2 separate regions of the Homo sapiens genome follow, and region 1 is linked to region 2. A link means that fine-mapping ties the variant in region 2 to the expression of a gene that starts in the linked region. Tissue or cell type: spleen. Region 2 holds a variant in brackets; the other region holds the start of a gene. All regions are shown on one strand. Distances are from middle to middle.

Region 1 (4,168 bases), 65 kb after region 2:
TCCAATCAAAACCCCAATAAAGTTTCTCATGGAACCTTCTAAGCTAGTTCTAAAACTTACAGTGGAGAGTAAGGTGCCAAAATAAAAAGCCAGGACCCAGGTACATGCATCTGTCAAAACTCATCAAATTGTACACTGTAAATCTACAACAGCAGGGAGAGGTGACCTGCCCTACTAGGTATGGGCGCTTATCAAGGAACTGTAGTAATTAAGACAGCACCGATCAGGCACACAGATGGATCAAGTGGCCCCTAATAATGAAGAGCCCAGGCTGAGGTCTCCAGACATCTCACCGCTCCCCTTGCTCTCTTGTGCTTCAGCCATCATCTTGAGAACACTCCCTAACTAACCGCACGAGGACAGGAGATGTGCGGAGCCAAGTGGAGTAGCCCCAACCATCCCAACTGAGCCCAGCCAAGGTCCACAGAGCTGCTCTCCTGACCTCCCGTGTGGGAGGAATACACTTGCTGCTGTACACCACTGAGGTCTGGTGTTTGGCCATTGATGCAGCATTTCTGGGGCAACAGATAACGGATAGGTCTGTGATGTTTATTCACTATTAAAAATAGACGAGTAAAAATAAGCCTTTGCATAGACCAGTGATGAGTGATTATGATTAATCCAATTTGATGCACCTGCAGTCCAAGAAAAATAAATAGAATATTTTGACCTGTTAAGCACAGTTTTCACTAATTTTTCCTTATCCTGTGTGCACGAAAGTCTGGACTCCTGCACCAAATTGTTGCAGAAATAAAGGGAAGCAAGAGACTCAACAGTTTAATCCATCGAGTGCTTACTGAATGAAGGGCTGACAGATGCACGTCCTTCACTAGATGCTGAGAACCAATATGAACAAAACGACACTCCTAGCCTCTAAGAGTTGGTAAGCAGGTAAGAGAAATAATTTAAATAATATTTTCATGAGCAGGCCTTGAACATTCTGACTCCTTCAGTAACTAACTTCCTATATGACTTCTTATAGCTTTTATCAACAACTAAGTTTAGCTTTTTTTTTTTAAAGATCAAATTTTAAACGCTTTTTAGTCAGTGCTGTCTCAAATCACTGGCAGGAATTGTGAAGTTCAAAGCAGAGAAAGGTCGTAGAATAGAATGGTGGTTATAAGACGCTGGGGGCTGGGGGAGGTGAGGAAGGAGGGAATGGGGAGTTGCTGATCAAAGGGTACAAAGTTTCAAACACACAGGAGACACAGCTTTTAAGACTTACTGCGCACTAGGATGCCAACAGTCAACAATAATTTACTACACATGTGTATTTCAAAATAACAAGACATTTCAAACATCTTACCACAAACAATAATAACTGAGAGAGGTGATAGATATGTTAATTAGCTTGATTTAACCACATTGCAATTGTATACACGGCTCAAAACATTACGCTGCACCCCATAAATGCACAGAGCGATTATATGTCTCAGGCATCAGGGCAGGTTGCTTCTAAACAGGGAACAACATGAGATCCCAAAGTTTCTTTTAAAGCCTAATCAGCAATTCCAATTTTCCTTTTTTCTTTTTTTTTTTTTTTTTTCCAGCAAGGTCTGGCTCTGTCCCCAAGGCTGGAGTGCAGTGGCGCCATCAAAGCTCACTGCAGCATCGACTTCCTGGTCTCCAGTGATCCTCCCACCTCAGCCTCCTGAGTAGCTGGGACCACAGGCGCGCACCCCCAAGCCCAGCTGATTTGTTCATTTTTTGTAGAAACAGGGTTTCGCCATGTTGACCTGGCTGGTCTTGAACTCCTGAGCTCAGGCGATCCTACTGCCTCGGCCTCCCAAAGTGCTGGGATTACAAGCCCGCACCCCACGCCCGGCCCCAACTTTTCTTTCTCTCTTTGCTGGAGAGGAGGCTTCGAGGTTCCCTGTTCCGGCCGAGTCCAGCGCCGCCAAGGCCTCCCCTCGGCATCCCCGCTCCAGTTCTGAGTAACTTCAAGGGCTCCGCCTCTCCACAGAGCAGCCCCGCCCAACGCCGCGGCCGCAGCCCCAGAGTCTGAGGCTTGGCTGCCGAGGTTCCCGCTTCTCCCAGAGAGCGCCTCGGCGGGCAGCACCGACTCCGTTTTAGGAAAGGCCGGGCCGGGCTGCTTGTGGGCGGTGGGCGGCCACCTCAGCAGCGCCTTTCCCGGGCGTCGGCCAGGCGGAGGGGAGGCCGCCGCACTTCTCCCCAGCCCCGGCCTGGGTCCCATCGGGCGCCCCCAAGTCCCGCGCTCCCCTAGGTCAGGCGCGCCTCCCTGCCCGCGACCGCGTCACCTTCCAGGAGCTGAGGCCCACGGCTGGGATATCTCCCATGGCCGCCGCCGGCCGCCCCGCCGCCCCGCCGCCCCGCACGCGACTACCGACAGGCACCGCGCGAGCTACTGCGGCGCTGGCGACCCGCCGTTGCGACTGGCTGGAAGTGCCTTGTGACGGCTGACACTCCGACAATGGCTGGAAGCATGAACGCAGGGCTTCCTGACTGGCTGCTGGTGTCGCGCGCCGGGCACTGACTGGCTGGTTGTATTAAGGACGGGCACCCCGATTGGCTGGAGGCGCAGAGCCAGCTGGAGTCCCAAATGGCTGGAAGCACCGCGCTCTGGACATCCTGATTGGCTGGCGGCATAGACGACGGAATTTTCGATTGGCTTGCAGAGCCACGCAGGAGCAGGGAAGGTTTTACAATCGGCTGGCATTGCCGCTCACGCCCCCACCTTAGGTGTGACCTCCTGGTTGCCTTCTCCCTCGCACCGGGTGCATATGCGACTGAGGGTAGGGCAGAGGTGCTAGGTTGATGGGCAGAGAGTCTTCACCGTTCCAGGGCCTCGCCATGGCCGGGCCATCCTAGGGCAAGCTCTAGGGTCAGGGTGCAGAGTCCTGCGTCCCCTGGGGCACAGGGTGCGCGGGAGTGGGTCCCCGCTCTCTTGTACCAAGGATGGCCATTCTCAGGTGCCCCGAGGCCCCCAGTCTGGGAGAAGCGTGCCTGGCCTTGGTTCCCCGTCAGGGAGCCACTGTGCCCTTGGAAAATGCCTTCCACTCCCTGGGTCCTGGCCCAGAGCGGCTGGGGCTTGCAGGACAGCGGGGGTCCTGGGTGGTGCAGGGGAGGCCGAGCCCTGCATGTAGAGGGGAGCGTCCTTGCTTGCAGCCTCGGGCCCCCGTTTGGAAGTGGATGGGGTGGACTGGACACCCCCCTTATGAGTGGACTGGGCTCCCCCAGGGCCAGTGGAGGGAAAGAGGGGTCAAGGGAGCCTTCCGACGCCCCTCTTATCTCTCCTGGAGCTTACAGCTCCCCCTTCATTGCCCCCCTCAGCCCTGGGAGTCCTACTGCCTTGAGGACACCCACACCCAGATGAGGGCTTTGTTTCTAGGTTCCTTGCCTGGGTCTTCAGTGCTGGCCATCAGGGGAGGCGCTGCCCATTCTGCTCAATGGGGCGGCTGCAGCCAGAGAAACTCCCAGGGTCACTCTGGGTGTCCCCCTGCCTCCCACCCAACTTGCATCTCCTGTGAGCATCCATCTCCTCAATGTGAGCTCCTCACAGGTGGGAAGGGGGATCTTCGATACTCTCATTTATTCATTCAGAAACTGTGCCTGGAGCACTCACCTGTGCACGGGGCAAGTTAGGCCAGGGTGCAGTGCTGAAAATGACCTGCATGGGCCTTGCCCTCAGGAGCTCACCATCTGTAGGAATGAATGGACAGAGCATAAAAGCAAATGCATGAGAAAAAAAAAGAGCAGGTGCTATAGTAAAATAAAGCAGGTGCTTGTGGTGAGAGGCGGAAGGGACAGAGTGAGGGAATCCTCAACACCTCAATGAAGTGGCATTTATGCTGCAAACAGAAAGGCAAAGAGTGAGGGAACCAGCCCTGCACAAGTCTGGGAACAGTATTCCTGGGGGAAGCTCTACTGCACTGCAATCGTGTATCATGCTATTTCATTGTTTTAACAGAAATTCCATAAGTCTATGACGTTGAGCATCTTTTACTCTGCTTCTTTGCTATCTGTATATCTTTGATAAGGTGTGTTTTCAGGTCTTTTGCCCATTTTTTATTTGGGTCATTCATTTTCTTATTGTTGGATTTTAAGAGTTCTTTGTGTATTTTGGATAAGAGTCCTTTATTAGATGTGTCTTTGTAAATATTTTCTCCCAGTCTGTCTGTAACTTGTCTTTTCATTTCCTTGACATTGT
Region 2 (4,168 bases):
AAACTGATGGGCAAATTGAAAATAAAAATTCAGAGCTTAAATGGTTAACCCGTAACTACAGAGTTAATGAGAGTCTTCTGTAACTATTTATCCTTTATTTCCTTTCCTGCCTGCTTTGTATCTGCTGTTATTAAGCTACTGGTGTTGAGATAAAACTTACTATTTGTATTAATGTCAATTCAAGGTCACTTAGTGATTTGTCTGGTACAATAAGCCTTTAGTTAGACTTATCAAGCAAAAAATAGACAAGATGCAAATTATTAAAATAAAAAATGAAAGAGGAGACATTGCAATCTCTTTAAAGATAACTCAGATGAAATGACAAATTCCTAGAACAATATAAAATACTAACACTGAAAAAATGGATAATATAAACAGTTCTATAACAAGTAAAGTGATGTAAATACTAATATATATTTTTATAAATTCACAAAGAAAAGCCCAGATACAGTTGGCATCATGGATGAGTTCTACCAAACATTTAAAAATTAACACTAACTTTCTCAAACTCTTCCAAAAATAGAGGAGGAAAGAACACTTTTAAGGACTCACTTTTAGAGACCAGTATTACCAGATACCAAAGCCAGACAGACATCACAAGAAAAAAAATTACAGAACAAAATCCCTTATGAATACAGCTATAAAAATATAAATAAAATGCCAGCAAATTGAACCCAGTAGCACATAAAAGCATTATATACCATGACCAAGTGAAGCTTATTCCAGGAATGCAATATTGTTTGAACATACAAAAATCAATCAATATAATACATTGTATTAATAGAATGAAGAACAAAACTACATGATCATCTCAACAAATTCAGAAAAAGCATTTTAAAAACTCCAACATCCTTTCATGATTTTAAAAAAACACTCAAAAAACTAGGAATAAAAGAGATTTTATTTTATAAAGAGCAACTATTAAAAAAAAACCCAAACTTCATACTTATTGGTAAAAGACTGAACGCTTTCCTGCTAAGATAAGGAACAACATAAGAATGTCTATTCTTGCCACTGCTATTAAGCATTGTACTGGAGGTTCTAGCTAGGAAAATTAGGCAAGGGAAGAAAAGCATCCAGATTGGAAAATATTTTAGATTTAGAGCTGCCATAACCTATTACTCACAAATTGGATGGTTTAGAACAACAAAAGAGGATTGTATTCTCTTCCAGTTCTGGAGACTTGAGTCAAAAATCCAGTTGTTTATAGGGCCATGCTCCCCATGAAAGCTCTCGGGAAGATGGTTCCCTTGCCTTTGACTAGCTTTTGGTGGCTCCCAGTAGCAGTTGGCATGCCTTGGCTTATAGTTGAATCACTTCAATCTCTGCCTTCATGGTTACATGGCTTTCTTTTCTGTGTGTATTTGTATTCTCTCTTCTTATTCTAAAGACTTTAGTCATTGACTTTAGAACCCACCTTAATTCATTATGATCTCATATTAACTAATTATATCTGTAAAAACTTTATTTCCATAAAAGGTCATATTCTGAAGTTCTGGGTAAACATGAATTTTAGAGGGACACCAGCCAAGCCATTATAAAAAAGAAATAAAACTATTTCTACCTGCAGATTACATAATCATGCCTGTAGAAAATCTTATGGGCTAGT[C/A]GCATTGGCTCACACCTGTGATCTCAATATTTAGGGAGGCTGAGGTAGGAGGACTGCTTGAGACCAAGTGTTTGAGACCAGCCTTGTCAACATAGTGAGGCCCCATTTCTATTCTCATAAAAAAGAAAAAAGAAAATCTTAAGGAATCTACTAGAATACTATTAGAGCTGATAAACAAGTTCAGACAAGTTGTGGGATACAAGATCAATATAGATACAAGATACAAGATCAATATAGAGGTCACGCGACAGGGTGAGACTTCATCTCAAAAGAAAAAAAGGTTGTTATAAAAATAGTCATTGTATTTTCTTTTCTCTACAGATTTCCCTTAATAAAGGGAAAAAAACCCTCTGCTTTGCAGGAAAAGTAAAAGAAGATGAGTTTTAACAGACTCCTTTCTGTAAAACTGAATGATGGAAAGTTCATGCCTATTCTGGGGTTTGGCACCTCTGTTGCTAGGAAGGTAACCATAATGGCATTGGGGATGGAGGAGTAGCAGGTGGTTCCTGATCAGAATTAGTCACTATGTGAGTTTGGGAAATTCAGGTGGGCCTCACTTTTCTCATTTTAAGACACTTCTCACCAAGTTAGCCCTTGGTGAGAAGTTAGCCCTTACTCACCACTTTGTGGATTAAGTAAAGGCTTTTCACGTTTTAGTAGTGATATAAACACTTCAGGATCTTGTTAAAAATGCAGATTTGGAGGCTCTATCCCTGAAGGTTCTGATTGAGTAGATCTTGGATGAGGCTGTAAAATTCACATTTATAATAAGCTCCCAAGCAATTTTGATGCTGCTTGTCCAAAACCACGCTTGGAGTGGCAGTCCGTCAAGAGAGATGGAAGTGTGCAAGCAATTGCTCAGAATTCAGGGGTGGGTAAGTCTGTGGCTGTTACTCTCTCTTGTTGTACAGTTGTAGCCATTTTCACAGTATATTAGAGGAAATAAAACACTATTGACATGATTACCATGTGCCAGAAACTTCACAGCAAACTTTAAAGTTGTGCTGTAATTTTTAGTACCCAAGTCCTCCCTGTTCACCACCAATAAGAGTATCTAGAGAAAGTTGTGTGGCAAAGGAACTTGGGGAAAGAGAGGCAGGCTTAGAGGTAGCTGTGTGGTCTAAGGTGGCCACGGTCTCTGAGAAGCCAGGTTGGTAAGACGGTGCCATCAAAGAGTTATGTAGTACTTGGAAAATTCTCTTCTCTTTGGCTCCATGCATGTTTCTGGATCAAACACTCCAGACCTACAAGGGCACATCTCAGTGGTTCCTGGTGAAGAATGTTATAAAAGTTGTAGGATTGTTTCCCAACACAAAAGAAACATGGTGTGTACCATTGAGGACTGCAAAGAAGACTCTCATGAAGTATTGCTTTTGCCATGCCTTGGCTCTTTAACCTGGGGATAGTTTATCTTTACGGACTCAGTTGACTCAACGGTAGATAGAAATGAAACAAATATACCCAAAAGGCATTATAATTACTGAGTGAGGTGTAGGGGGTGCTAATATAAACAGAAAAATTATGGATGACTTAAAGAGTCCAGGCTGGTGGGCCAGGAGAATAAAAAAATATAAGAAAGATGTGAAGGAGAAAGTGATGCCTAAGAACCAGCAAAGCAACCAAAAGAAGAATTAATTATGAGTTTTTTTAAGTGAAAAAAGTTTTTCTTTTAAAATAATTTTTTATTTTAAAAATAAAATAATTTATTTTAAAATATTTTAAAAGAAAATAGCTTATTTTATTTTAAAAGCTATTTCTTTAAAAATTTTCTTTTAAAATGATTTTTTAAAATGATTCCTATTTTTGTTCTTCCTCAAATGTTCTTTGTTTTTCCAAGTTTAGATAGGTAAATTAATAATTTATTGTGTCTAAAGTTATATCTTTATGCAGATAGATAATTATTAGCATTAAATTATTGGATCAAAACCAATTTCATAATCTCTTATAGAGCAAATTAAGTTAGGAATGTAAATCTATAGATTGTGCAAATCTATAGATCATATACATTCTATAAATACATAAATAGAGGTTTAAAGACTGTGACGTGCTCATGAGGACTCAAAAGAGTGTATTGTGAGCATCTTTGCCCAATTTGGCAAGCTTGAACTTATCCATGGTGGGAGTATTTACACTATTGAAACTGGCAAATACTACAAACCAGGACTTCCTCAGAGCTAGCTGTTAAACATTTACCATTGATTTTTACTCAACATTTAGCTTTGCCACCTGTAGCTCTTAGCCCTTAGTAGGGAAAAAAAAGGTTCTTTTGAATATCTCTGCTAAGAGAATTGATCATCTGTTCCTGAGTCAAACAAATCTTTATCTCTTTATGCTCTTCCAGGTTGCTATGAGTAATGTAGAAGAAGCCGTCCAGGTAGCAATTGATGTAGGCTACCGCCATATTGACTCAGCTTATACACACCTGAATGAAGAAGGCATCGGGCAGGCCATCCGAAAGAAGATTGCCAACGGCACTGTGAAGAGAAAAGATATATTCTATACCACAAAGGTGCTGTGTACCAATGCATCTGTTTCTGTGGAGAGCTCACTCTTAGCTGT

Alleles and levels. Alleles are on the strand shown, and positions count from the first base shown. SD is a standard deviation of normalised expression in the study named.
In carriers of allele C in region 2, the expression in spleen of the gene that starts at base 2,415 in region 1 tends to be higher than with A alone (moderate effect, 0.47 SD a copy in GTEx).

What was found. PIP is the estimated chance that this variant, and not a neighbour inherited with it, causes the effect.
Region 1: AKR1E2 starts here. The variant in region 2 is fine-mapped to the expression of AKR1E2 in spleen (GTEx, PIP above 0.99).

The regions. Positions count from the first base shown.
Region 1 is chr10:4,824,454-4,828,621 of GRCh38, reverse strand. AKR1E2 (aldo-keto reductase family 1 member E2) reads right to left here and starts at 2,415. Exons shown (of 10, transcript NM_001040177.3): 1 at 2,259-2,415. The coding sequence starts at 2,297. RefSeq lists a silencer at 1,909-1,988.
Region 2 is chr10:4,889,787-4,893,954 of GRCh38, reverse strand. It overlaps the pseudogene AKR1C6P. Among named protein-coding and RNA genes, the nearest start is that of AKR1E2, 66 kb to the right of the region's middle. The variant C/A (reference allele first, on the strand shown) is at 1,610.